7 linked regions of the Homo sapiens genome follow. The protein of the gene in region 3 purifies or fractionates together with the protein of the main gene of each other region. This does not show direct contact. Each region holds a gene or a part of one and is shown on either strand. Other genes may lie near its edges. The genes, in order: NCAPG, RRP1, BTNL9, INTS4, TBC1D9B, WDR44 and SLC30A6.

Region 1 (4,107 bases), on a different chromosome or scaffold from region 3:
TCACAGACTGAACTTAAGCTGGGTTGTTTTAATCCTTTAATGGCATTTGGTCAAACTTGTTACCATTTTTGAAATTTAATGTATTAGTGATTTCAGATGCTAACAGATTAAGTTGAAAGTATTACTCTATTTTATTTGATATTTAGTGATAAGCTACTCTGTTCAATTCATATGTTGTATATTATTGGAAAGATAAGATTACAAAGGATATTAGGCAAAATTAGGTAAGGGTCAGTAATAGAGCTATTAAGCACTTCATGACTTGAGACAAGGGCAAGAGTCATGTGGTAGGAATGATGAGTACAGCATTAGTTTTAAAACTCATTGACCAAAATTCAGTTAGGCCTTGTTGGTATTTGGGGAGTGGTTTGGGTAGAGGAAGGATGTTTTAGTAAAGGTGATATATGTAGATGGTTATGCAAATATTGGGGAACTGTAGAAAGATGACTTTGGCTAAGGATCCTGAATAGGACTGTTAGGGCACAACACTGGGGGTAGATTATAGATTGCTTTAAAGGCCAATGTAGGGAATTTGGAGTTGGCCTTATGTGCAATGGATAATTATGCAGGGCTTATGATGAAAGGGTTAATGTCATGAAAACCACTTATTGGAAAGATTAATTTGGTGGTCAGTGGTGGTTATATGAGATGAATTGGTGAGCAGAAAGAAAAGAATATTAATAAAGAAAGCAGCTGAAAATCTGTATAATTCGCTTGTAGAAAAAGTACTAGAAAGTAATAGTAGAAAGAATAGAAATTGACCTAATAAAGAATTATGGGTACAAGAATCTAAAAGAAAGAGCTTGAGAGGCAAGGGAGATGGAGGAGTCCAGGAAAACTCTAAGTATGTGTAACAGCAGACTTCAAAGGAGCTGTTGACATAGTTTAATTGGGGAGTACTCTCATGATCAGTGTCTTGGAAGAGTAAGGGAAAAGTAGATTGGGGCATAGCCCTAAGTTCAACTACTGCTATGCAAACAAAGGCCCCAGCCAATCCCATAGGGAGTTCCGGAACTGGGATGTTCCTTTGAGTTGTCCAGAATGGAGACAAGCTGAAACACTGTACTTGTGCACGGGCCAGTCATTGGATTTGGACAAATCTTTGGGAGAAGAGGTATGATCTTGGACAAGGTCCACCAAAGTCCACCATTGTCAGCCTGGATCAGTACTGCAGCTGGGAACTTTTACCCTCCAAAACATGCAGCAACTGGGGGATGAGTGCATCTTTCCTAAAGGGAGTGGAACTGGGCCCTATATCACAACATCCACAACAAGAAGTCAAGAAGGGGAGCTTATTTTGGGGGTAGGGAGGATGTTAAATTTGGTTTTAGACATTTTATATTTGGGATTATGGCAAGAAAATTAGTTGGAAATATTTGTTAGATGTGTAAGACTATATAATAATCATAATCATCTTCAATTTACAGAGAATTTTCTCTTAATTTTTTAGGCCTTAACAGTACATGACAATTTGGCTATGAAAATTTGCAATGAGATCTTAACAAGTCCGTGCTCGCCAGAAATTCGAGTCTATACAAAAGCCTTGAGTTCTTTAGAACTCAGTAGCCATCTTGCAAAAGATCTTCTGGTTCTATTGAATGAGATTCTGGAGGTAAAGTAGTTTCTCATTACTCTAAATTAGTTTGTGTTTATATTTATACATGTAGAATTTACATGGTTGTATTAGATTATACATATGTTAGCATATTGTGACTTATTTGAAGTATTTTCTTCATAAATTTCATATAATTTAGTGTTTTTAAACAACTTGATATGTATTGGTACTATTTTCAAAGATTAGGGAATGCGGTGTTTACAAAATGTTAATAATGTTTTCTTTTATAGCAAGTAAAAGATAGGACATGTCTGAGAGCTTTGGAGAAAATCAAGATTCAGTTAGAAAAAGGAAATAAAGAATTTGGTGACCAAGCTGAAGCAGCACAGGATGCCACCTTGACTACAACTACTTTCCAAAATGAAGATGGTAATCACATACTGAACAGAATATTTATAAGGTTCTGTTTTTTTTTTTCCATCTTTACTGAGACATATTTTTTTCTACTCTAACATGTTTGGTTGGACATCAGAAATGAATGAAATTTTTTTTCTAATTAATCCTCTTGGGAAAGAGCATTACTGATAAATGTTTATTCTGCTTTTCAAGTGTTTTTTGGCATGCATTTCTCAACATATGACCATCTTTTTAAGAGTTTTGCTTCTTTTTCCAATATTCAAATTTTCGAAAGGGTGATTTATAACTTTTCACTAGCTGCTAGAAGGACTTTGTCATTTCAGTTTTATAAAAACTGGTCTTAAAAAGACAATTTAAAATATTTCATGAGGTTATCTTATTTATATTGTTGTATTATTCCCTTTAATAGAAAAGAATAAAGAAGTATATATGACTCCACTCAGGGGTGTAAAAGCAACCCAAGCATCAAAGTCTACTCAGCTAAAGACTAACAGAGGTAGTGTGTGGATTGACCATCTTTATGATAAAAGTTTTAAATTTTATCTTCCAATGAAAAATACTTGTTTTGCAAGTTTTCTTATCTTTGTTTCCTTAGGGATAAAGATTTTTTTTAAAATGTCTTTGGTATCCTTTCTTTTTAATTCTTTCTGTGGATGTCAGTTTTTGCCTTGTGTCTAAAGATTATAAAATCAGTGTTGCTCTTGGTGCTTTAGATTGAAAGAAGTATGATGCAAAAGATATTACAAAAGACAATTTGGGTTAAATTAAGATTTGGTTAAATGATGGTTTTATATTAGTTATTTGTGTTCTATCCTTCCTGTAACTAAGCATTTTTAAAAAATCCCTGTAGTATTTTTCTGGGCTTTGTTTTCCTTCTATTCCCATCTTATTTCATATTTTCCCAACTTATTTCCCAAGGGCTATCCAACAATAGGGGATCTGTTGGCAAAGTAAATGCTGACTATTAGGGGGTCACTTGGAAAAAAATCTGAAATTCAAGATCTTTTTATTGTTTTATTATTTCCTCATTACAAAAGCAATGCATGCTTATTACAGAAGAATCAGAAAGTACATCCAGACAAACTACTATAAGGAACACTAATAATCCCACCCATGAGCCAACCATGATTTTGATTTTAGAAATCTATTTTTTAAGGCCCTTTTCGATGCAGATTTAATTTTTTCTAAAATGGAGTCTGGTCATAATATTGTTTTGTAACCAGTAAATTATTTAAATACCAATTGCTGGATATTGTTCCAAATTAGTCCCATATTGTTGGATGTTTTCTTGGGGATAAATGCATTAGTAAAAGCAGGTAAGGAGTAGAAAAAAGTGTAACATGAATGAAGTAGAGTATATAATTTTCAGACTGTCACATTGAACAGTTTGGTTTTGATCAGATTTTTTTTGTGGTATATCACACCATGAGAACACCATCCTTTTTAATAGACCAAACTTCATATATTCATATTGTTTTATTCCTTATAAATGAGAAACATCACAAGCCAAACTTTGTCTTACTCCTTAACCTTGTAAATTTCTAGTAAGTAGAATCTTATAATCCCCAGTATATAAAGGTTCTAGTTTTTACATTGAAATATATTTTAGAACACATTTGAATTGGTCATGTATGTTATTTTACAAGAAGCCATTATTACCTTACTATGTTTTATCACCTTCCAAGAAAAAAAAAAGTTGTTTCTTTAGCACCTGTTTATGCACCTAACCTACCTTTCTAACCCTTAATTTTCATGAGTCTCCACAGACTTTGTGCTATAGCAATAATAGAGGTACTTCATTATAACACATTTTTCATATACTGTCCTCAAATACATTGAACTAAAATTTGCCTTCTTTTAACTTGCTTGAAATTTCCTTATTTTCCCTTACTCATTATTAGTGCTTACAAAATAAATTAAGTTTTAATCTTGCTTGGGTTCCTTTTTCTGTGGCAGTGATAACTGGTACCAAGATGGCTAGAACAAGTAGGAGATACATGTGTTGAAAGGATTGTTGTGTTGAAGACAAAGGATTTAGTTAGCCTAGAAACTAGATTAAAAACAAAAAGCAACTGATAATAAATCCTGATAATGAATTATACTATCTTCAAGGACAGAGAAAAGTGACAGTTTCA
Region 2 (3,715 bases), on a different chromosome or scaffold from region 3:
GGGTTCACGGGGTCCCTTTTGTTCCAGGCTCCATCTGCAGGGCTGAACCTGAGGCTGGTGAGGAGCAGGCAGGTGACGACAGGGACAGTGGCGGCCCCGTTCTCCAGGTGGGTTCCCTGGGCTCATGGCTGTGCCCTCAGCCTTTGCCCCTCTGTGCTACCGCTTGCTCTGGAAGAGGAGGGGGGCGTTAGGAGGGAGGATGGCAGCTGTTGGCATGGAGAGTTACCCGGACAGGGGTTAGCTTTGAAGGAGGGATGGGTGCCCCAACCCTGCCCGCCTGTAGACGAGTGGGATCATTGAGAGTGGGGCTGGGGCCTGGGAAAGTGGGGCTGGGGCCTGGGAGGGTGGGCTCAGGCAGAACTGCATTATCCAGGGCTGGCCTCACCTCACGCTGTCCTCTTGCCTCACACATGGGCAGCCCCCCAGATTTCCTGCGGCCCCCTCGTTGGGGTGCTGGTGGGGAATGAGATGGCATGTGCCAAGCGGCTGGCCTGTGGGTCCCAGCGAGGAATCCACTCAGCCAGTGGGGTCTGACTTCAGGCAAATTGGAAACTTAAATGTTTTAAGTTTTAAATATGATTATCTGCAGACTGAATAAAATGTGGCTATCTTGGGTTAAAATTGATCAATTTAACCTATGTTGTTCGTGCTTGTCTGTGTGGTTCCTAGAGTGGTAAAGCTGCAGGCAGGCTACCGGCGGGCGTGTGCCCTGCAGTGTGCCCCGCAGTGTGCATCTTCCAGAGTGTGCCCCGCAGTGCGTGCCCCGCAGTGCGCCCGCAGCTTGTGTGGTGCCCGCTGTGCTGTAGAGTGGGTGGAGCTGCAGGACCCTCAGTGAGGGTGGGCTGTGTTCCTGTGAGCCGGGTGGAGAACCTGCAAGTGGGACCAAGTGCTATCTGGGTCTCAGGGGTTCCACGTTCTCGGAGCACGCAGAGCGTGGCTGACCTTGCCTCTGTGACGTCTCTCTTTTGAAACAGTTTGACTACGAGGCAGTTGCTAACAGACTGTTTGAAATGGCCAGCCGCCAGAGCACCCCTTCTCAGAACAGAAAGCGTCTCTACAAAGTGATCCGGAAGTGAGTGTGTGAGGGCGCTGCGTCCTCCCTGCTCCCCTTGGAGTTGCCCTTTCTTGCTCAGATCTGGGTGCCTTTGCCTTGTCCTGGGCCCTTCCGCAGCCCCCGGGGTGATCCCCGCTAGGACCCTGAGACCGTCCCCAGCCCCTGGGGTTCCCCTGGCTAGGAACCTGCAGCCGCTCTAGCTGGAGCTTCCTCCTCCTGCGGAAGCCGCAGCTGTGGTAAGTGGGTATCTGTCTTACTCTTTCAGGCTGCAGGACCTGGCAGGAGGTGAGGATCGGCCGGGCACTGACAGTGGCACCACCTTGGAGGTGGAGCTCCATCCTCGTGGGAGTGGTTTGGTTCTAGGGGTCTCATAGCACGTGGAGTCTCTTTGCAGAGAGGCCTGGTGGTGTTTCTGAGGGACAGGGAGGCAGGGCGCAGGGTTCCACAGCTCTCGTTTTTGTGGTTTTTGCTGAGTGGTTCTCAGACTTGAGTGTCCATTGGAGTGCCCCAGAGCCTGAGAGATGGGGTGCTGGCCTCAGGGGCTCCCAAGCACTGACCGCGGTGCTGCTGCTGGTCTGTTGGGCAGCACACGTCTGTTCTTGGCAGCGCGTGGCGGATGGAACTGGCATAGGTTATCGGAAGGACGGTTTCCTAGTGGGCGTCGATGGTTAGAGACGTAGGCGTTTCCCCTGGTGTTTCCTTATGAAAAGTTTCAGACCTGCAACTCAGTTGGAAGGATTTTATAGTGGATGTCTGCGTGTCCCTGCCGGCCTCCAGCATCAGCACTTCCTGTCCTTGCGTGAAGCTCCTCTATCCCAGCATCACACCCCTGCATCCGCCAGCGGGCGCGTCATCAGCTGTAGTCCAGGGTTTGGTTTTTTTATTTTTTATTTTTTGAGGCGGTGTCTCGCTCTGTTGCCCAGGATGGCGTGCAGTGGTGTGATGCAGCTCACTGCAGCCTCGATCTCCTGGTCTCAAGCGATCCTCCCGCCTCAGCCTCCCAGTCGCTGGGACCACAGGCGCACGCCACCACGCCGGCTAATTGTTGTATTTTTTGTAGAGACAGGGTTTCGCTGTGTTGCCCGGCTGGTCGTCTGGGGTTTTCGGGACAGCGCGCGTCAGTGAGGTGCGTGAGGATCGTGTGCATCTGGCAGGTTTTGATGCAGAAAGTTGCCTTGGGCCGCCAGCATGAGCATTGTAGGCTGTAGACTTTGGTGTACAGGTTGAGCGTCTCTAATCTGAAACCCCAAATCCAAAATGCCACCAAGTCCAAAGCTGAGTGCTGACAGGAAGCTCCAGGGAAATGCTCGTCGCAGTGTTTTCTGTTTGGGGTTTTCAGGTGAGGGCTGTTGAACTGGTGAATATGATGCAGACGTTCCAAAACAACCTGACATTCAAAGCACTGCTGGTCCCAGGCATTTGGGGTCGTGGACGCTCTATGCTGTACCTGTGTCCTGGATGCTCCAGGAACTGGCTTTTCCAGATGGGCTTGGGTCTCAGCTGGTTCGTTTCAGCTGTGGCGGGTACTGAACACGCTGCTCCTGGGCATTAGAACAGGGCGCTTTCTCACACACATTGTCAGGAGGTGGTGCTGGCTGGGGCCTGCTGGAAGCAGCGAGCCTCAAACCATAAGTCCCCAGCCCCCGAGAGCCCCCTGACTTCTGCCCTGGTTCTCAGGCATTTTCCCTGAAGATGAGATCCCAGAGAAGGCCTGCAGGCGCCTGCTTGAAGGGAGGCGGCAGAAGAAGACGAAGAAGCAGAAGCGTCTGCTCAGGTTGCAGCAGGAGAGAGGTAGGACTAGGGGGTGTGTTAGTCATGGAGCCGGCGTCCTCACCTGCTTGCTTCTCCCCTGGATGGGGGTCACCTGCAGTGTCTCCCCCTGAAGCATGAGTGCCGAGTCCCCCATCCTGGGTGCCTGCTATCCACGCATCCCGGAAATGCCCTGTCCTCGGCATCCCTCCTGTAGGCCTCTCCCTGCCTCCCCCACCCACCTTCCTTGTCTGCAGCTCCCCCGAGCTGTGTGCGCTGCCCTCCCTCCCGGTCTGGAGACATCCTCCTGGCTGGGCTGCCTCCTTCCGTGCCTCCGTCTTAGATCCAAGCCCCGTCCGCTCCTCTCCCGCACCCTCCAGAGATTCCTGAGTCTCTCCACGTCTTCCTTCCCCTTCTTCCCTCCACTTCTTCCCTCCACTTCTGTCCTTGATTTCTGGGGCTGCCTTCCGTGTTGGGCCTCTGGCCACACGAGTGTGGTTGGCATGTGATGCCCTCACCAGGGGCAACCCTGGGTCCGCGGCAGACCACTCAGGGCCTGGAGCTGCCTACCTGCAGTGGAGGGGGTTGAGCACAGTGCCGGGCAGGGCAGGGGGCCCATGGCAAGAATGGGGTGCAGAGGAGGCACATGGTGGCTTTGCCCCACACTGGGAAGCCTTCCCTGTTACTCTCTCCATGCTAAACTGGCCCCAGGGCCTAGGGATTCACCCCTTCCCTTGCCCAGAGCTCCGTGCCATTGAAGCCGTCCATCTCATTTCCCATGAGGCAGTGGCCTCCTCTTTGTAGCCGGCCCTTGGCTGTGTGAACCCTGTCGGCCCTGGCGTTCAGGACCTGGCACTGCCTGGCGTCCTGTTCTTCCACCTCCCCTTCTGCCTTGAGCCCAGTCCTGCCTAC
Region 3 (4,107 bases):
ATGTCCCTCAGGGGCATTACTGTCCCCACATGCTACCACTGATTTAGACTGTCATTTCCCGTCCATGGGCGGGGAGCGCCAAGCCCACACACGTCTTAATAGCAGTCACACTTCATGATGCTTTATGGTGACTGCAAATGCTGAACAGTGGCAGGAATGTTATGCGTGATTTCTCAGAAGAAGCCTGACCTTTCCCACTCCTCCTGCCTCCACCAGGGCTGGGCTCAGACCCTCACCTCTCCCTTGAGGGCTTCAAGGAAGGAGGCATTCAGCTGAGGCTCAGATCCAGTGGCTGGTACCCCAAGCCTAAGGTTCAGTGGAGAGACCACCAGGGACAGTGCCTGCCTCCAGAGTTTGAAGCCATCGTCTGGGATGCCCAGGACCTGTTCAGTCTGGAAACATCTGTGGTTGTCCGAGCGGGAGCCCTCAGCAATGTGTCCGTCTCCATCCAGAATCTCCTCTTGAGCCAGAAGAAAGAGTTGGTGGTCCAGATAGCAGGTCAGTGGCTGTTAGCTCACACCCATCTTCCTAGTCCTCATGTGTACATACACATTGGCCCAAAGGCAGTCTATAAAGACACAATGGTACTGCGCCTGTCTGCATATAGGGTGTGTTGGCCTTGACACCTGAAAAGTCAGCACCTTGGATATTAGGAACACACTAAGAACGCTACTGAGAACCCAAACAGTCAGTGAGAGAGGCCCCAGAGAGCCCGCCTTTCTGTGCCTAAGGCCATACACTAAAACCCATCAACTCTGCTCATCAGAGGCATCATGGGAGCCAATAGATTCGTAATGCTGTCTCTCAAACAGTATGTATTGAGTTTCCACAACGTGACCCCAGTCCCTACCCTCAGGTCCCCATGCCAGTGGGGGATACAGACAATAAGCAAAAGAAGTGCATCCTGTCACATCACGTTAGAAGGTGGTAGGTGCAGCCGGGTGCAGTGGCTCACGCCTGTAATCCCAGCACTTTGGGAGGCCAAGGCGGGTGGATCATGAGGTCAGGAGTTCAAGACCAGCCTGGCCAAGATGGTGAATCCCCATCTCTACTAAAATTACAAAAATTAGCCCGGCATAGTGGCAGGCGCCTGTAATCCCAGCTACTCGGGAGGCTGAGGCAGGAGAATCGCTTGAACCGGGGGGCAGAGGTTGCAGTGAGCCGAGATCTGCACTCCAGCCTGGGCAACAGAGCGAGAATCCGTCTCAAAAAAAAAACAAAAAAAAAAAAAACAAGAAGAAGGTGGTAGGTGCCGTAGAGAAAAATGAAGCAGGCTGAAAGCAGTGAGGCATGTCCACAGATTACAAAAGGCACGTCCAGGAAGTGGGCGTGTAGGCAGTGAGCTGAAGGCAAGGTCATTATTAAAGTCTTATTATGAGGCAGCCACTGAAGGGTTTCAAGTTCATGGTTCTAATTGTTTTACATTTTAAGGACAAACCCAACATACGGGCCACTTTTCACACGAGTCCAAATCAAAAGCTATTTTATTATAACAGAAAAAAACTCCCCCTTTGATATAGTCAGTCAGATACAAGCCAATGCACACATGTTCTCAAGATAAATGATAACTTGTCTGCAAGTAGGAGGACCTGGCAACACCGCTTACCACAGCAGTTCTAAATTCCGTGGGAATTGGGATGGCCATCTGTGTGAGCCAACTGTCTTTAACCAAAGGAAAAATCAAGCATGTGATACGTCTAGGGCATACAACTTGGAGCCACGCAGCTAAGCTAAACTCCCATGAGACAGGGATCTCCACGGCAGTGCTCTCTCTTTTATGTTTACATTTCAAACAAGTGGCCCTTAAGGAAAACATTATTGGGTTGTAAAGAAAGAACTGATATATTTTCTAAGGAAAATGAACTAAGAGAGGGGAAGAGGAAAGAGTCTCTCTTTTTGCACCAGGAAAAACCCAATATTTTCTTTTTAGCTTTTAATATAAATCTTAATTTATATTATTGATATTTATTATGAAACAAGTTTATATAAAAATTTTTAGATGGGTAAATGTTTGCATGCGCGGACCCCTCTACAGAGGGCGTGACTCACATGGATACCTTTGGGAAGGCATTCTGGTGGCGGGAAGGGCAAAGCCAGGGGCCTGAGAGGGAAACTGCCGGCTGCTGGCAGAACAGCGAGGAGGCCAGAGGGTCGAGGGGGAGGGTCACAGGTCAGAGAGACAGTCCGCCCTGAGCCCTTGCCCTTGACCCCAGGCCATTGCTTCAGACACCATCTGTTGTGAGGACCAATCCATTGTGACCCAGTGTTTTTGTACCATACAATAAAAATGCACTGCTAGAAAAACAAAATTAAAAACCACAGTCCACTGATGTCACTTATAAGCCAGACACACAGAACAAATGCCGTCTGATTCCACGGATGTGGGATTACCTAGAGGAGTCAAGTCCACAGGGATGGAGAGTATACGGAGGGCGCCAGGGGCTTGGGCGTGGGAAGAGGAATTACTGTTTAATAAGTACAGAGTTTCAGTTTTGAAAGATGAAGAAACTTCTGGAGATGGGCGGGGGTGATGGTTGCACACGACATGGTGAATGCACTTAATGCCCCTGAACTGTACACTTAAAAATGGTTAAGATGGGAAAGGTTGTTACGTATATTTTACTACAATAAAAAGAACATTTTTTAAAGATCTGAGATAAAAGCACCATTTTCTAATAACTAGATGACACAGACAGAAAGTTACTCTATTCAACCGCCACAGGGTTTGCGAAGGGCCGGTGGGTTCTGCGCGTCCCTGCGCCGCTGGTGCTGTCGGCGCTGCCCCCGGCCACGTCCTGCCTGCGGGCGGGTCCTCCCTGGGGAGCCGGGAGGGACGTGGGAGCTGCGAGGCCGCGCGCACGTGGTTCGGTTCTCACTTCTTCCAAAAGCGTGGTAAGAACCGAGGGAGAAGCCGGATGTTTGCAAACAAGCGAGGAGACGACTTGCGGACCAGACGGCGCGGGTGCGAGCAGGAGCTCCCCGGACATCCGCCGCCAGCCAAGCCCCTGGGACCCTCCCGCCTGCGGACGCGGGGCGAGGGCGGGAAGACGCGGGGCGAGGGCGGCGCTGCGGCCGCAGAAGCCTCGAGCCGGGCTGGGGCGCGGTTCCCTCCCGCACGCCCCGCGGCGCGCCCCCGCCCCCTCCGCCGCGCGCGCCCCCGCCCCCTCCGCCGCGCGCGCTCCCGCTCCACGCCCGTTTCCCAGGCGGCTGCGGTGGCGCCCGGAGAAGGTCCCGCGGGAGGTTTCCCGGCACGCGGCGGGCAGGCCGGTCTCGCCTCTCGGTGCTCAGCGGCGCCTGGACCGACACGGCCCCCGCGGGTGTTTTCCAGACGTGTTCGTACCCGGAGCCTCTGCGTGGAAGAGCGCGTTCGTCGCGACCCTGCCGCTGCTGTTGGTCCTCGCGGCGCTGGCGCTGGGCGTCCTCCGGAAGCAGCGGAGAAGCCGAGGTACCGGCGCGGGCGGCGGGGCGGGGAGGGGCACCGGCCGGTGCTGAACCCCGGGGCCGCGGAGGCGCCTCCCCCCAGGACGCGGCGCGGGAAGGCGGCCTGGAAGGGGCGGGGGCGCGCACTCAGCCCTCTCCGCTCCCGTTTCCCTTCAGAAAAGCTGAGGAAGCAGGCGGAGAAGAGACAAGGTGAGCGGGGACAGGGCGTTCTGCACGCACCTGCCCAAGTGCCAAAACCCGCCGTCATCTAAAGGCTGTGGGTCCCGTTACGAGGGTTTATTCCAGCGCGAGGTGTCAGGGCGGCCACCGGGGAACGGGGATCGGTGACCCCGGTGGGGAAGGGGGAAGATCGTTCATATGGACAAAAGCGGAGGTGCGGAACGGCTGCATTTTCCACGGAGGCTAGTGCACAGATGTCAGGGTTGACCGGCTGCTGTCGTTACGCCCTCGGAGCTTCACATCACACTGTACAGAGGGAGCGGTGACCAGGGTCTCTGCTGCCAGCGCCACCTCGTCCAGGTTTTCATAGCGCACAGGGAGTCGGGCGGATGCGCAACATCTCCGCACAGGGTCAGGAAGCGGCGGTCAGGCACCGAGAAAACAGCCCAGTTACGTGAGGCAGTGTCCGGGGCTTAACGTTTCCGCCGAGCTAATAGATTTGGGAGG
Region 4 (4,107 bases), on a different chromosome or scaffold from region 3:
ACTTCCTAGTCCCCTTCCTTGATTTTGTTTTCTCCATAGTAATTACCATCTTCTAATATTCTGTATAATTTCTTGTTAATTATGTTCCTTGTCCATTTCCCCATGCAGGAACATAAGCTTCCCTTGAGCAGGGATTTTTATGTTTTTTAATTGTTGTTTCTACAGAATCAAGAACAGTGCCTGGTAAAATAAATATTTGTTGAATGAATAAATGAATTAATTGATGCTTTTGTGATACATTTTACTCAACAAATATATATCAGACTTTGTTCTGGGCACTGGACGGTGTCCATTAGCACAATTGTTAAGTCTTATGCGTTGCAATTGTTTGCCATATGTGTCTATCTCCTTCAGACTTTGAGCTCCGTAAATTCAGAGGCTGCAGATCCATTAGTCTCTATCCCAGTGCCTGGCAGGTTCCTAGGAACATTGAAGGGACATTATAAATGTTTCACTTATGTTTTACGTGAATAAAATCAGGCTTTCTTTTTTTGTTGTTCTTTTCTTTAAAAAATTTTTTAAAAAATCGTATCTATCTATCTAGAGACTGGGTTATGAGACTGGCTAATTTTTATATTTTTGATAGAGATGAGGTTTCACCATGTTACCAAGGTTGGTCTCAAACTCCTGGGCTCAAGCGATTCACCTACCTCAGCCTCCCAAAGTGCTGGGATTACAGGCATGAACCACTGTGCCTGGCATCTTTTTGAGTGTTGCTCTGTTGCCCAATCTAGAGTGCAATGGCGTGATCACTGCCCACTGAAGTCTGGACTCCCAGGCTCAAGCCATCCTCCCACCTCAGCCTCCTGAGGAGCTGGGACCACAGGCACATGCCACCACTCCCGGCTAATTTTTTCTTTTTAATTTTTTTTGTAGAGATGGAGTCTCTCTGTGTTGCCCAGGCTGGTCGCGAATTCCTGAGCTCAAGCAACCCTCCTGCTTGGCCCTCCCAAAGGATTGGGATTACAGACGTGAGCTACCACATCTGACCAAAATCAGGATTTCTGTTCTCAAGAAGTTTTCGATCTCTCAGTGATCTATTTTCCGTTAGTCTTTTTCTTAGCAATATCTACCATTATTATTATATTAAAGATCTGTTACCAATAATCATCTATAATAATACTTCTTAGAGCAGTTAACATTATATTGCTTGTTAGAGTTTGAAAGCACTTTCCATATGTAATATTTTATTTAATCCTGGTGACAGCACCATTGTTATCTCTAAATTCCAGATATGGAACTAAGCTTAGAGCTGTTTAGTATCCAAGGTCACCCAGCTAGTAAATGGAAGGTATGGATTTGAACTTGGGTTTTTTTTTTAAAAAACCTTTTGTTATGGAACATTTCAGATATATACTATGTAAGTAAAGAGAATAGTTTAATTAATTCCCATGTACCCATTACCTGGCTTCAAAAATTATCATTTTGTGGCCAAACTTGTTTCATTTTCCCTCTTCCCCAATCCACTTCTACTTCTTTACCCTCACCTTCTCCACCAGATTCTTATGAAAATAAATTCCTGGCATCATATTATTTTAATCATAAATTTTGATTTATATCTTTAAGTGGTGAAGACTCTTTTTTTATTATTATACTTTAGGTTCTAGGGCACATGTGCACAACGTGCAGGTTTGTTACATGTGTATACATGTGCCATGTTGGCTTGCTGCACCCATTAACTCATCATTTACTTTAGGTATTTCTCCTAATGCTATCCCTCCCCCAGCCCCCCACTCCCCAACAGGCCCCGGTGTGTGATGTTTCCCGCCCTGTGTCCAAGTGTTCTCACTGTTCAATTCCCACCTATGAGTGAGAACATGCGGTGTTTGGTTTTCTGTCCTTGTGATAGTTTGCTGAGAAGGATGGTTTTCAGCTTCATCCATTTCCCTGCGAAGGACATGAACGCATCCTTTTTTATGGCTGCATAGTATTCCATGGTGTATATGTGCCACATTTTCTTAATCCAGTCTATCGTTGGTGGACATTTGGGTTACTTCCAAGTCTTTGCTCTTGTGAATAGTGCCGCAATAAACATACGTGCACATGTATCTTTATAGTAGCATGATTTATAATCCTTTGGGTATATACCCAGTAATGGGATTGCTGGGTCAAATGGTATTTCTAGTTCTAGATCCTTGAGGAATTGCCGCACTCTCTTCCACAATGGTTGAACTAATTTACACTCCCAACAGTGTAAAAGTGTTCCTATTTCTCCACATCCTCTCCAGCATCTGTTGTTGCCTGACTTTTTAATGATTGCCATTCTAACTGATGTGAGATGGTATCTCATTGTGGTTTTGATTTGCATTTCTCTGATGACCAGTGATGGTGAGCATTTTTTCATGTGTCTGTTGGCTGCATAAATGTGGCGAAGACTCTTAAAAAACATAATCTTTTGTCATGTCTAAAAGCAAAATTTAACTCAGGTGTTCTGATGTCAGATCTCAAGCACTTTAACCAGTCCATGCTGCATGCATTAATCAAGTGGACCCTAGCTCCTAAGGAAATGAGGAGGGATGCCAGATGGACCCAGTTCTAGATTGTTGACCATAGTGTTTTTTACCCTTTCTTCTGTTCTATCCAGAAATGTGGTATTTTATGTTAATATTTTAGTGGATAAAACTACTCTGGCTTCTGCTTTTTCCTACTTTTTTTTTGTGATCAGGCATTAGTATCTGAACTTATTTCACATGATTGATTCTTCACTTATGCTACTGTGCTAGTAGCTATGGAGGATGCAGAGCTGTGAGATATGTTCTTTGTCCTTTAGGGGCTAGCAGTGTAGTCGGCAGACCATATATGTAGTATGTAGATAGTAAGTGCTAAAGTTTTCCATTTGCTTATTTTTTCATTTGCTCAGCATGTCTGAATACTTACTCTGTGCCAGGCTTTGTGCTTCATGTTGGTAATAGAGATGTAGATGATGTAATCCCTGATCTGAGTCTTGAGTAAATAAGAAATGAATTAATAACAATACAGTGTTTCAGGTCTTATGAAATCTGGGGTAGGTTATGATATGGCCTCAAAGAAGGGGGCGATTAATTATTGGAAGCAGGGATCCAGAAATGCATTATAGAGTGGTAGCGATGCTTGAGAAAAGTCCTAGAAATAGATTTTGGCCAGTTGGAAGACAGGGGGAAAGACATTTTAGTTGTGAGCAACCGTGAACATGGGCATGGAGATGTGAGACAGGCTATCACATTAGAAGAAATGCAGCTAGTTTGGCTGGTGCAGATTTTAGGTTGGGAGCTCATCAAGAGATAAGACCAGAAGATTTGGAAGGCATCTGATTCTAAAGGGCCTTGTATTCTACCTTGTCAGTTTTTGTTTTAGAAATGTCACTCTGAGGGGAAGTATGGAGGATAAAGGAATTGGATGGACTGGAGTTAGAGTGACCAATTAGAAGACTGTAAGTTTGGGGAAAGGTGATGAAAGCCTGAACCAAGACAGTTTTAATGGTCAGAAGAAACAATTATTAGAGAAGGCTTCCCTGGAGGTAATTCTGTTTTTAGCTCAGGTGTGAAGGAGATCATTTATGTGTCATAGTAGAAGGAGTGCTAAGGGATTATTTCAGAAAGTAAAAGAACTTGAGTAAAGTATCCAAATGGATAAGGAATGTCACTAGGTCAGATGCTCTCTTATCTGCTTTTTTTTTTTTTTCATTTACATTTATTTTCTTTTCCCCCCCTTTTTTCCCTTTTTTTTCCTAACAAGGTCTCACTCCAGGCTGGAGTGCAGTGGTGCTATCATGGTTCACTGAAACCTCCACCTCCCAGGCTTATGCAATCCTCTCACCTCAGCCTCCTAAGTAGCTGGAACTATAGGCATGTGCCACCATGCCTGGCTAATCATTTCTTAATTGTGGTAACAATTAAAATTTATTATCTTAACCATTTTAAGTGTGCAGTTCATGTGTGTTAAGTACATTCATATTGTTATGCAGCCATCACCACCATCCATCTCCAGAACTCTTTTCATCTTGTAAAACTGAAACTCTTTCCCCATTAAACAGTAATCCTCCATCACCCCCACCTCCAGCCCCTGGCAACCACCATCTACCTTTTTTTTTTTTTCATTTTTTGACACAGAGTCTCACTCTGTCACCCA
Region 5 (4,107 bases), 1.2 Mb from region 3:
TGCTCCACCCTTTGACCTGTCCGGGACTGTGCAGGGCAAGCCCTTGTCCTCTTGCCTTCCTCCAGGGAATCATCGCAGAAGAGAACAAGAACCTGCAGCCCCAGGGAGACGAGGACCCCGGGAAGTTCAAGGAGGCTGAGCTGAAGATGCGGAAGCAGTTTGGGATGCCTGAGGGCGAGAAGCTGGTGAATTACTACTCCTGCAGCTACTGGAAGGGCCGCGTGCCCCGGCAGGGCTGGCTGTACCTGACGGTCAACCACCTGTGCTTCTACTCCTTCCTGCTGGGGAAGGAAGGTGAGCCCGCCCCTCAGTGTGCCCCAGCCCCCACACCCTCAGCCCCTCCCTGCCTTCGGCCCCCAGATACTCCATCCCCACATGGCCACCAGAGGGGTCTCCCTGAAACCCAAATGCCACCTTAGCGGCCCAAGATGGGACTGTCCGGCCTTGGCCAGGCGTACACCTGCTCCCAGCCGACTTTTACCATGCCCCCCACTCGCTAGTAGGGTTCTCTACATGGTGACTCCGCGTGCCTGCCCTGCCCTCTTCTGCTGAACTGGCGTATTCAGGCACACGTCTGTCCCAAATTCCTGGTGATTCCATGTCATGCAATGCCTTGGGTGCGTGCCACAGCCCTCATCTGCTGCAGGTTCCTCCCTACAGACATCCCGGCCACAGGATGCGAGCCTGATTTCCCAGCAGCTCCAGAAAGAGCCCCAGGGTCTTAGCCATCCCCAAGCCCACCAAGCCCTCCTCCCTCCTTGCCTCCCTCAGCCCACAGCCTCCCTGTGCCCCCTCCTGCCCTTGCCGCTTACCTGTCACGACCAGGTGGCCAGTCACCTCCCGTCAGCAGGGGCTGTGTCCTGTTCTGTGTTGGCCGCGCTGTGCTGTGACTGTTCACACCTCCGTGCGCTCCCACTTGGGGGAGCTGCTGGGTGGGTCTCGGTGGTTCACCTCCGCACGTTCGTTCCTTTCCCCTTCAGCCACTGGTGGGGGAGACACTCACCGTGTGTGGTTGGTCTGGAAGGCAGTGGACACCTCAGTGGCCTGGTCCCTCCACATGGAGGGCGTGACACAGCCCAGACAGGCCTGGGCACACAGGAAGTGCTGCCCCCAGAGAGCAGTTCCCTGGGATGGGTCTGGGGTACAGATGGGCATCAGGAGCCTCGCCCTGCCAGGCCCTAACTTGCGGTGTGTCTATCTCTGTGGGCACAGTGAGCCTCGTGGTGCAGTGGGTGGACATAACGCGTCTGGAGAAGAACGCCACCCTGCTCTTCCCCGAGAGCATCCGTGTGGACACCCGCGACCAGGAGCTCTTCTTCTCCATGTTCCTCAACATCGGCGAGACCTTCAAGCTCATGGAGCAGTTGGCCAACCTGGCCATGCGGCAGCTGCTGGACAGCGAGGGCTTCCTGGAGGACAAGGCCCTGCCTAGGCCCATCCGGCCACACAGGAACATCTCAGCCCTGAAGCGGTGCGTTGCCCTCCAGGGCTGGGGTGGGCTCATGTGAGCCAGGTTCGCTGACCTTGGCTGGGACCTGCCTGGTCCAAGTGTGTAGACCTGGAGAAGGTGTCCACATTCACCCCTCATGGGCTCCCCACTTGGGAAGGAAGCCAGGTAAACAGATCATTGCAGTCCCGTGTGGAGAGGCAGCAGGAGATAGCAGTGATGTCCTGAGGATACCACTAATGGGGAGGAAGCTCTTCACACTTTATTCCTCTTGGCCCTATGATGGGAAGGGGCTCTTACCATCCCTAGGTATCAGACAAGGAAGCTGAGGCACAGAGAGGTTAAGTAACTTGCCTGAAGTCCCTCGGTTAGTGAGCAGTGGAGCCAGGATGTAGCCACCTCAGCCAGGGTGTTCTGACACCCCCAGAAAGGCTTTGGTAAATCTGGGCTCAAGTGCACGGCCTCCGTCCCACCGTGATTGACAGCTCTCCTGTATACCCTGAGACTCCTTGGCCAGAGGCCTCTCACAGCCATGGGACCCCCAGGGGTCCTGAGTTTGACGTGGAAGCAGACCTCTGGGTCTGAAGCCAGCCAAGGAGATGGGCCATGTGTGGGTCTGAGTTCCCTGCTGCCCTGTCCAGGGGACCGATAGGCAGGAACACATCATAGCAGCCAGCCCTCCCGGGCTACTTAACGTTTGGGTTCCTAGGTTGTAGCTTATGGGAAACTCCAGAGGCTGGACAAGATCTCTGAGGTTCCCTGGGTCCCACAGCCAGCCTGACCACAGCCAGATTCACACCCTTGTGTTGAGCGACCTCATTCCAGCCAGGCCATTTCCTGCATTGCACCCACAGACTGTGGTCCAGGCCCAAACTCTGGGGTCCACCTCCAGGACCAGAAAATTGTGCAAGCATGTTGTCCTTGGGATGCAAGTGACAGGTTGGCTTGTTGGACCTTTTGGAAAGAACACGAGCAGAGATGGAACATGACTGCTCCTGGCACTGCCGGTGAGAATGCAGTCAGGCCCTGGTCAGGCCACTGCGGCCCAGGGCAGGCAGGAGGCTCCCTTTGGGGCTGGGAGAGTTTATGTGGACAGAGCCACCAAAGGGGTGAGGGCCTGGGCCAGGCCACTGTCACAGCCATCAGATACACAGGTGTGCATTTCTGTTAGCAGCCGCATGCTTTAGTTTAAGCTCCACACCTCCCTGTGGGGAGCTCCTCACCTAGGTTTCAAGGTGAAACCTGGGGTTAGGCCTGCCCAGGGTGGAAGAGCTGCCCGGGGCCCTCCATCTGAGTGGGATCCAGGGCAGGTGCTCTGGGCTCTGCTTGCCCATCAGTACCGAGGGATGGGTTGCACATTGCCCAGGCCAGCATCTAGGTGTGTCCTTTTCAAAGCAGTCTCAGGACACATTGCTTGCTGGCCACTTCTCCGCTGGTTATGTGACTGTCTCACCTTCTGCCTGCTCACTCAGCATGCATCTTTTATTGAACTCTGAGGTCCCTGAGCATGACTTGCTCAAGGGACCACCCCAGGGATCCTGAATCTGATGTGGAAACAGGCCTGGGGAGGCCCCAAGGCTTCCTTGAGAGTGTGCTGGTCCTGACCTTGTCCCCTTTCCTCCTGTCCTCCTACCTTGTTTCCCCAGAGACCTGGACGCCCGAGCCAAGAATGAGTGCTACCGAGCCACGTTCCGGCTGCCCAGGGATGAGCGGCTAGACGGCCACACAAGCTGCACCCTGTGGACGCCGTTCAACAAGCTGCACATCCCTGGCCAGATGTTCATCTCCAACAACTACATCTGCTTCGCCAGCAAGGAGGAGGACGCTTGCCACCTCATCATACCCCTGAGGGAGGTCAGCATCCCCTAGTTGAGAGGCCAAGGCCTTTCCAGCCCCGAGGTGTCAGTGGGCTCAGGGACCAGCCTGTCCTGCTCTGCCCTGTCTCACTGGGGGGTACCTGGGAGGATGCCCTAGCCCAGGCAGTCACATGTCACTCAGTGATGGGACAGGTGGAGGGTGTAGGACAAGTGAGCCCCTCCACAGGCACCTGCCCTGTTGGGGAGGCAGGTAACATGGTGGGGGCACACTGCTTGCCCTCTCAGGTCACTTGCCTAGTGGAGACAGGGTCTCCCACGCGTGAGTTTCCATCAGGCCTGCCTTCTGGGCCCTGCAGGGCAAAGTGCTGCTCCGTGGCTGCGCTTAGAGGACCGTGTTCCTGCACCGGTCCCATATGTCACTCTCAGAGGCCACCTCACCAGTCCTCTCTGGACATACCACCTTGGCGTGGCTCGGCTCCAGCAGGCCATCAGAGGTCGGCTCTCCCCTGTGGGGCGGCGTCGGCTCTCCCCTGTGAGGCTGCATTGGCTCTCACTTGCTCCTTCTTGGGTTTCTTGGACTTCCACAGTGACCCTGGTGGGAGCAAGGCCATCTGTCCTGCACTGCACCGAAGGGGTGTGGACAGCAAGGACAAGGGCCCTTGCCCAAATAGAAGGCATGAGACTGAGTCAGGACAGGTCCCAAGGCCTCCTTTTCCTTGTGGCCAAGCAGGGCTCTGACTGTTTAATTATAAGAAGAATCAAGTGAGATTCTTAACTTAAAGACCTCCCTGCCATTTGCACAAATCCCTCAAGTTGCAGATGTAGCTGAGAATAGGTGTGGGA
Region 6 (4,107 bases), on a different chromosome or scaffold from region 3:
CTAAAAAGCCTGAATCCATTCCTTTGTATCATCTTTCACTTCCTTTACCTACATATTTATTGTTATTTCTTACCTTTTTTTCATGTCATCCATCACTGAAGATTTAGTATTCTTGTTTTCTGTCCAAAGTAGTGTGGTATAATACAAAGATCACTGGATTTTTAAGTAAGACCTGGATTTCAGTTTTGGCTTTGTAGCTTACTAATTGTGGGACTGGCAAAATTCTTAAAGCCTTTACCTCAGAGTCCTGCTTTTCTAGGAGGGAGGTAATCCAGCTACCTAACCCAAAGGCCTGTATGACAATTAAATGAGAATGTGTATACTAGGTCTAATACACAGTAGGCCTTCTTTCCTTTCTTTTCCAGAACATTGCTCTGTTATCTTCTTTTCCAGTAGTTCCTTCCCTTCAGGTTATAAAAGTGCTGGGTCACTTTATCGAAGTCTTTTTGCATTTATAGCTAAGCTTTTTGAAAACTCAGACCGTGCTAATGTCTCTGTATCTTCACCTCTTATTCAATCTCAAATCCATTGTAATATGACTTCTGTTATCACTGTTATCATTGAGGTTCTCAGTGCTCAGTAACCACCTAATTGACAAATTGGTTGGACTCTGGTTAGTTTTGGTGAAAGCAAGGTAATTTCTAAGGTTAACAATTTGAAGTTTGAGAAAAACTAACATATAGAACATGCTAAGAAATCAGGGATGAATATTACTGAGCAGCAGTAATACCCAGTTCAAGTTAGCATGAAATTGTAGTAAACCAGATTAGGATGGTTCTATGATGCATTCTGTTAACTTTCTGAAGCCAGGGAATTGAGAAAGCAGAAGTTGTTCATGGTTGGACATGGTGGCAGGATAAGTGATCTGGGAGATTTAATATTAGTAATGACAAGACTGGGGAGAAAATATATTCTAAATGTTGGCAGAAGATAATAGAAAGCCTGTTTATATTTTAAGCTACATATAAGAAAGGGGGCCAGGCGCAGTGGCTCATGCCTGTAATCCCAGCACTTTGGGAGGCTGAGGCAGGTGGATCACATGAGGTCGGGAGTTAAAGGCCAGCCTGGCCAACATGGTGAAACCTCGTCTCTACTAAAAATACAAAAATTATCCCGGCGTGGAGCACCTGTAATCTCAGCTTTTAGGGAGGCTGAGGCAGGAGAATTGCTTGAACCTGGGAGGCAGAGGTTGCAGTGAGCCAAGATCGTGCCACTGCACTCCAGCCTGGGTGACAGAGTGAGACTCCATTTCAAAAAAGAAAAAGAAAGGAAGGGAAAAGACAAGGTGGACTGGGTATTTGAACTCTTTTCATGGTCCTGCCATCAGTCCACATAGTGGAGTTTAGGTGTAGTCTGTTTAAGAATGTTAATCTCCCTGCATCTGCTGGTTTTTGGGTCATAAGCTTGAGTTCAGAGCTAAACAACTTGAATTCTTCTCCTGGGGATTTGGATTATCGTGGTTTGGTTAAGTAGGCTCAAACCATTAGGCTGGTATTACAACAAGTTTGGCATAAATATGTAAATGAATCAGGATATTGAGTCTTAATGTAAGTTTAGGATTGAACTTGATTTTACAGGATTATTTGATCTTTTGTACCTAAGTATTAACACAAATTTGCTATTATGAGGGTTAAGAGTATAGATGCTGGAATCAAACTCCCTGGGTTTATACCTGCTTCATCACTTACTAGCTTTGTGACCTTGGACAAATCATTTGATTAGTTCCCTAATTTGTAAAATGGTGACAGTAGGAGTAGAATCTCATAAGGTTGTTGTAAAGATTAAAATATGTAAAGTGTTAAGAACATTGCCTGGCACATACTAAGTACTATGTAAATGATTAGCTGTTACTGTGTTCTTATAAATAGCTTCATTTTTAAAAACTACTTTTAACCCTTTCATCAGATTATTGAAAGTATTATTGAGGAGAGTCAGAAAGTACTACAGCTTGAAGATGACTCTTTGGATTCCAAAGGAAAAGAACTCTCTGATCAAGCTACTGCCAGTCCTATTGTGGCTAGAACAGATCTGAGCAATATACCCGGACTGTTAGCCATAGATCAAGTACTACCGGAAGAATCCCAAAAGGCAGAGAGTCAGAATACATTTGAAGAGACTGAATTAGAATTAAAAAAATGCTTTCCTTCTGATGAAACCTGTGAGAAACCAGTAGATGAAACCACGAAGTTAACTCAAACAAGTTCAACTGAGCAGCTTAATGTGCTTGAAACTGAAACAGAAGTATTGAACAAGGAAGCAGTGGAAGTCAAAGGAGGTGGTGATGTTTTAGAGCCTGTGTCCTCAGACTCCTTATCTACTAAAGATTTTGCCGCTGTGGAAGAAGTGGCCCCTGCCAAACCCCCAAGACACCTTACTCCAGAGCCTGATATAGTGGCTAGTACAAAGAAGCCTGTTCCAGCACGCCCACCTCCTCCAACTAATTTCCCACCTCCTAGACCCCCACCTCCTTCTCGACCTGCTCCACCACCAAGAAAAAGGAAAAGCGAATTGGAATTTGAGACTCTGAAAACTCCTGATATAGATGGCAAGTATTAATTGAGAAATCACTCTGTTGGTTGGGCACAGTGGCTCACGCCTGTAATCCCAGCACTTTGGGAGGCCAAGGCGGGCGGATCGCTTGAGCTCAGTTCAAGACCAGCCTGGGCAACATGGCAAAACCCCATCTGAGCAACAACAACAAAAAAAAATACAAAAGTTAGCTGGCCATGGTGGCACGCGCCTGTAGTCCCAGCTACTTGGGAGGCTGAGGCAGGAGAGTTGCTTGGGCCTGGGAGGCAGAGACTGCAGTGAGCCAAGGTCGCGCCATTGCACTCCAGCCTGGGTGATCAGAGTGAAATCTTGTCTCAAAAAAAAAAAAAAAGAGAGAAATAACTCTTTGTGGTGAAATTTTGGAGTTGAAACTGTTTACCTTTCTGCCTTTATTTCACTTTATTAAAAAACTCACTGGCAACCAAGTTATTAAAATTATTTCTTTAGTAATAGACAAAATGTAAAAATGTTTACATTGGTGAAAATTACTTTACTGTAATTGAACACTTCAGCAGACTTCAAACTTTCAATTCTGTTGCCATCTGAGAGAGAGTGGCATGGTGAAAAAAACTTGGGATTTGGAGACCTAAAGTCTGAATTCAAGTCCTGCATCTTTTTTTTGTATGAGCTGTATAGTCTTGAGGAAATTAAATAACTTGTTTGAACCATGGTTTCCCTGTATAGGAAATGAGAGTAATCAAGCCACTTTCCTCACAGGGTTGTTACAAGAATCAAACAAAAAGGGTTGTTATTATTGTTGTTATTATTATCATTGCAGTTCCCAAAGAGAATATTACGTCTGATTCTCTCCTAACCGCAAGCATGGCTTCAGAAAGTACGGTTAAGGATTCTCAGCCTTCTCTTGATTTGGCAAGTGCTACCAGTGGAGATAAAATAGTTACCGCCCAGGTTGGTGAATTAGTGTTCTGTTTCATATAGACTTTATCAGCTCCCTGCAACTGGCTGGTTTGTTGATGATTATTCTGTATTCTCCAGGCCAGATTTTTCTTTGTCCTCCAAACCTGACCCCCTTACTTCTCTTGATCAGCTCTGCTACATGCTAACTGGGTGAGCCTAGCAAGCTGTTTAGCATCTGGATCTCAGATGCCCCATCAATAAAATGGAGGAAAAGTCCTTCCTTGAGGGTTTGAAATGAGCTAAAATATGCCAAGTATCTAGCAGGTAATAGGTATTCAAAAAACGACAGATGCTACTATTTGTAATATTGTTGGTACTAATAAACACCAACTATAGTCTATGTTTGTCCTGTATTGGTCAGAATTGAAGACTTTTTTTTTTTATAATTTCCTTTTCCTAATCATAGAAAAACTTTATATGCTAGGAAGCGGGCTACACAAAAGACTTGATAACACTAATTTTACCACAGCCAGATTCTGGGACTCAGAGCTACTTACATGGTAGCTGTGGTGGGCCAGGCTACCACACTAGAATATAGGACACTATAGTCTTGTTATAGCCTTAGAGCAGGGGTCAGTAGTGGCCTGCTTTAGGAGGTTCCCCAAGCTAAGAATGTTCTTTACATTTTTAAAGGTTGTT
Region 7 (4,107 bases), on a different chromosome or scaffold from region 3:
GAAAAGGTGGATACTTTTAATACTTTATTCAACTCTACCTAGAATTTTATTTGAGGGAAGTTCATGTTCTTCACAATAACATACTAGGAGCCATAATATAGTGGCAAACGTGGAAAAATATGAGGAATTGTTCAATTTGGAAATCAAATTCACTTGAAGTGAATGTGGAAGGTAATGGCCTAATGACCACCCTATTATAAATGCTATGATTTTTATTTATTTTATTTAGTTATTTAGTTATTTTTTTTTTGAGACAGTCTTGCTCTGTTGCCAGGCTGTAGTGCAGTGGCGCAATCTCAGCTCACTGCAACCTCCACCTCCCAGGCTCAAGCAATTCTCCTTCCTCGGCCTCCTGAGTAGGTGAGACTACAGGCGCGTGCCACCATGCCCAGCTAACTTTTTCTTTTTTTTTTGAGACAGAGTCTTGCTCTGTCGCCCAGGCTGGAGTGCAATGGTGCCGTCTTGGCTCACTGCAACCTCCGTCTCCCAGGTTCAAGTGATTCTCCTGCCTCAGCCTCCTGAGTAGCCGGGACTACAGATGCAAGCCACCATACCCAGCTAATTTTTGTATTTTTAGTGGAGACAGGGTTTCGCTGTGTTGGCCAGGCTGGTCTTGAACTCCTGACCTTGTGATCCACCCGCCTCGGCCTCCCAAAGTGCTGGGATTACAGGCATGTCCACAGCGCCTGGCCCGCCCAACTAACTTCTGTATTTTTTTTTTTTTTTTTTTTTTTTCTGAGATGGAGTCTCGCTCTGTCGCCCAGGCTGGAGTGCAGTGGCACAATCTCGGCTCACTGCAACCTCCGCCTCCTGAGTTCAAGTGATTCTTCTGCCTCAGCCTCCCAAGCAGCTGGGATTATAGGCGCCCACCACATGCCTGGCTAATTTTTGTATTTTTAGTAGAGACAGGGTTTCACCATCTCGACCAGGCTGGTCTTGAACTCCTGACCTCGTGATCCACCCACCTCGACCTCCCAAAGTGCTGGGGTTACAGGCATGAGCCACCAGGCCCGGCCTAACTTTTGTATTTTTAGTAGAGACGGGGTTTCACCATGTTGGCCAAGATGGTCTCAATCTCTTGACCTCGTGATCCACCCGCCTCGGCCTCCCAAAGTGCTGGGATTATAGGTGTGAGCCACCGTGCCCAGCCTGTTTTTTGTTTTTTTTGAGACTGAGTCTTGCTCTATCACCCAGGCTGGGGTGCAGTGGCATGATCTTGGTTCACTGCAACCTCCGCCTCCTGAGTTCAAGCGATTCTCCTGCTTCAACCTCCTGAGTAGCTGGGATTACAGGCTCCCACCACCATGCCTGGCTAATTTTTGTATTTTTAGTAGAGACGAGGTTTCACCATGTTGGCCAGGCTGGTCTCGAACTCCTGACCTCAAATGATCCGCCCCTTGTGACCTCCCAAAATGCTGGGATTACAGGCATGAGCCACTGTGCCCAGCCTTTTGTTGTTTTTTTAAAATATATATATAAAAAGAGATGGGGTCTTGCTATGTTGACCAGGCTGGTCTTGAACTCCTGCTCTCAAGCCATCCTCCCATCTTGGCCTTCCAAAGTGCTGGGATTACAGGCATGAGCCACTGTGCCCGGTCAAATGCTGTGATTTTTTTTTTTTTTCCAGGGGGTACAGGGTCTTACTCTGCCACCCAGTCTGGAGTGCAGTGCCGTGTTCTCTGCTTCCCACCGGCTAATTGTTGTACTTTTTTAGTAGAGACAGGGTTTCGCCATGTTGGCCTGGCTGGACTCGAACTCCTGGCCTCAAGTGATCTGCCTACCTCAGCCTCCCAAAGTACTGGAATTGCAGACATGAGCCACCATGCCCAGCCTAGACTTTCTTTTAAGTTGTTACAAATTTCCACCTACTAACTAATGAAGAAATAAAATAATGAACTATTTTGATGTTGAAACTATTTTAAACCTTTGATTGTCAGTGTGACAGAGGCCACTTTTACCAGTATAACTGGCTACTACTCTCAACTAGTGAAGCCTGGCCTTGAGTATGTGTCCTGTGCAACTGTACCAGTGGGCTACACACTATATATCTGGCCTTGGAATTTCTTCTAGACTCACATCCAAACAACATCCTGTGTTGTGCAGAGATTTGTTATAAGGGATTTCAGAGAAAGAAGTGATTGAGAAAACAAAAAAATTAAGTAAAAAATCTGATACCACAAAGTGCTAGATATAAATATATTCCATATTGATATGAAAAGAACCATACACTGTTGAAGAAATTGGTTGGGGTAGGGGTTTAAAACTGAGCAGTGGGGACCTGATTCTAAAAGAATTGGGGCAAGCAAGAAACGAGGAAAGCAAGGTCTTGGGTCAGTATGGAACAAACAGGAATGGTATCTTGAGTGGTCTGAGACTTCTCTTAGCTAATGAGTGTCCTTGTGCAGGATTTGGCTGTCATTCTTAAGTTTAAACTAAGTCCATAATGTGACTAAACTGCATTGGATATGTTAAGTACAGACAACTCTGATCACCTCTTTCTGTTTTTGGTAGGTATCTACCTTAGATGGAGTTTTAGAAGTCCGAAATGAACATTTTTGGACCCTAGGTTTTGGCTCATTGGTATGTTCTTTTACATATGACTTTAGTTATAATTTAAAATATAGTCTTCCATTTTTAAAACTGAAAAAAAATATTTCCTTAAAATTTTTATAGAGCCTTTGATTCCTAGTTATGTTAAGCAGAGTCTAAAATGTACATGAATTCAATTACCTAATTGAGGGATTTTTTGGTGTTTAGAGACAGGGTCTCACTCTGTTGCCCAGGCTGGTGTTGAACTCCTGGCCTCAAGCAGTCCTCCCGCCTTAATCTCCCAAACAATAGAGGAATGTTTTTATTTTTTTTCCATCAAACATGTTAATGATAATAATACAGGAGTGTCCAGATAAGACAAATTTGTAGTCAGTGTAATTTCCAAATAAGAAAATGTTAAAAAAAATTAAAAGTGCAATTGCTTTCTTTTTTAACTGTAGTTCTCATTTTGGAGAGTTTGCTGAATATTTTGAAGAACTACAGTAACACAACTTGCTTCAGCATAAAATTTCGTATTTTCTAATTCAGTTTGAACCTCAATACCAGAGAGACTTTATTATGACACGGTTTTACTCGTACGTTAGGAATGATGAGGAAAATACAGAAAATGTAAAGCACTATAATCTTATCATCTAAAGAAAACTGCTGTTGATATTTTGGTGTTTATACATTTATTTTCCTTAGAAAATGAGATCACGGGCTGGGCGTGGTAGCTCACGCCTGTAATACCAGCACTTTGGGAAGCCGAGGCGGGCAGATCACCTGAGGTTGAGAGTTTGAGACCAACTTGGCTAACATGGTGAAACCCCATCTCTGCTAAAAATACAAAATTAGCTGGGCGTGGGGTGTGGCACACGCCTGTAATTCCAGTTACTCGGGAGGCTGAGGCAGGAGAATCTCTTGAACCCGGGAGGCAGAGGTTGCAGTGAGCCGAGATCACGCCATTGCACTCTAGCCTGGGTGACAGAGTGAGACTCTGTCTCCAAAAAAAAAAAAAAAAAAAAAAACAACAGAAAATGAGATCATGCTGTTTTATAATTAGCTCTTTTTGTTTAATTAATTTATCATGAACAGTTTTCTATGTCATTAAATACTCTTCTACAGTATCATTAAAAAAAACAGATAGGGTTTGATTTTTCTAATATAACACAAATTTTATAGATAAACAGATCAAAGCTGGTCTAGCAGTTCAATGATATTACCCACTTTGCAGTCTTTAGTTTCAGGCTATGCTTTTGTAGTGGGAAAATGGTTGCTTCACCTCCACCTTCCCCAACTCTTTCCCTCTCTCATTATTTTGGATGTCTAAAACTTATTACAAGAAAAACTTGAGACTGTAACATCCCCTCCCTCCTTACTGGGAAGGTGCCAAATGACCAGAGTGTCAAGAGACCAAAGAATGACTTGGACAGGTCCAGCATGGCCAGTAGGTGAGTTTGTTAGGAGTTACCTATGGGGCACTCCTGGGAAGCAGGACAGCTTTAGAGATCTACCCACCTCCCATTTCTAAGCTGCTTTTAAGCTAATTTTCTCGCTCTTTGCCTGCTGTATGTGTGT

What was found.
Region 1: the proteins of BTNL9 (region 3) and NCAPG purify together in Homo sapiens (affinity purification with mass spectrometry; one large-scale study listed by BioGRID and IntAct). This does not show direct contact.
Region 2: the proteins of BTNL9 (region 3) and RRP1 purify together in Homo sapiens (affinity purification with mass spectrometry; one large-scale study listed by BioGRID and IntAct). This does not show direct contact.
Region 4: the proteins of BTNL9 (region 3) and INTS4 purify together in Homo sapiens (affinity purification with mass spectrometry; one large-scale study listed by BioGRID and IntAct). This does not show direct contact.
Region 5: the proteins of BTNL9 (region 3) and TBC1D9B purify together in Homo sapiens (affinity purification with mass spectrometry; one large-scale study listed by BioGRID and IntAct). This does not show direct contact.
Region 6: the proteins of BTNL9 (region 3) and WDR44 purify together in Homo sapiens (affinity purification with mass spectrometry; one large-scale study listed by BioGRID and IntAct). This does not show direct contact.
Region 7: the proteins of BTNL9 (region 3) and SLC30A6 purify together in Homo sapiens (affinity purification with mass spectrometry; one large-scale study listed by BioGRID and IntAct). This does not show direct contact.

What each region holds. Positions count from the first base shown.
Region 1 is NC_000004.12:17,838,226-17,842,332, forward strand, and holds part of NCAPG (condensin complex subunit 3), read left to right. Parts: intron 1-1,450; coding exon 1,451-1,612; intron 1,613-1,845; coding exon 1,846-1,984; intron 1,985-2,381; coding exon 2,382-2,468; intron 2,469-2,961; exon of another isoform or gene 2,962-4,084; coding exon 4,085-4,107. UniProt on the Homo sapiens protein: Regulatory subunit of the condensin complex, a complex required for conversion of interphase chromatin into mitotic-like condense chromosomes.
Region 2 is NC_000021.9:43,799,543-43,803,257, forward strand, and holds part of RRP1 (ribosomal RNA processing protein 1 homolog A), read left to right. Parts: intron 1-27; coding exon 28-107; intron 108-974; coding exon 975-1,072; intron 1,073-1,319; coding exon 1,320-1,339; intron 1,340-2,731; coding exon 2,732-2,845; intron 2,846-3,715. UniProt on the Homo sapiens protein: Plays a critical role in the generation of 28S rRNA.
Region 3 is NC_000005.10:181,049,872-181,053,978, forward strand, and holds part of BTNL9 (butyrophilin-like protein 9 isoform a precursor), read left to right. Parts: intron 1-216; coding exon 217-498; intron 499-3,328; coding exon 3,329-3,445; intron 3,446-3,595; exon of another isoform or gene 3,596-3,597; coding exon 3,598-3,630; exon of another isoform or gene 3,631-4,107.
Region 4 is NC_000011.10:77,984,468-77,988,574, reverse strand, and holds part of INTS4 (integrator complex subunit 4), read left to right. Parts: intron 1-4,107. UniProt on the Homo sapiens protein: Component of the integrator complex, a multiprotein complex that terminates RNA polymerase II (Pol II) transcription in the promoter-proximal region of genes.
Region 5 is NC_000005.10:179,890,573-179,894,679, reverse strand, and holds part of TBC1D9B (TBC1 domain family member 9B), read left to right. Parts: intron 1-65; coding exon 66-294; intron 295-1,212; coding exon 1,213-1,471; intron 1,472-3,093; coding exon 3,094-3,301; intron 3,302-4,107. UniProt on the Homo sapiens protein: May act as a GTPase-activating protein for Rab family protein(s).
Region 6 is NC_000023.11:118,390,727-118,394,833, forward strand, and holds part of WDR44 (WD repeat-containing protein 44), read left to right. Parts: intron 1-1,905; coding exon 1,906-2,545; intron 2,546-3,328; coding exon 3,329-3,459; intron 3,460-4,107. UniProt on the Homo sapiens protein: Downstream effector for Rab11 which regulates Rab11 intracellular membrane trafficking functions such as endocytic recycling, intracellular ciliogenesis and protein export.
Region 7 is NC_000002.12:32,206,982-32,211,088, forward strand, and holds part of SLC30A6 (zinc transporter 6), read left to right. Parts: intron 1-2,511; coding exon 2,512-2,580; intron 2,581-3,915; coding exon of another isoform or gene 3,916-3,980; intron 3,981-4,107. UniProt on the Homo sapiens protein: Has probably no intrinsic transporter activity but together with SLC30A5 forms a functional zinc ion:proton antiporter heterodimer, mediating zinc entry into the lumen of organelles along the secretory pathway.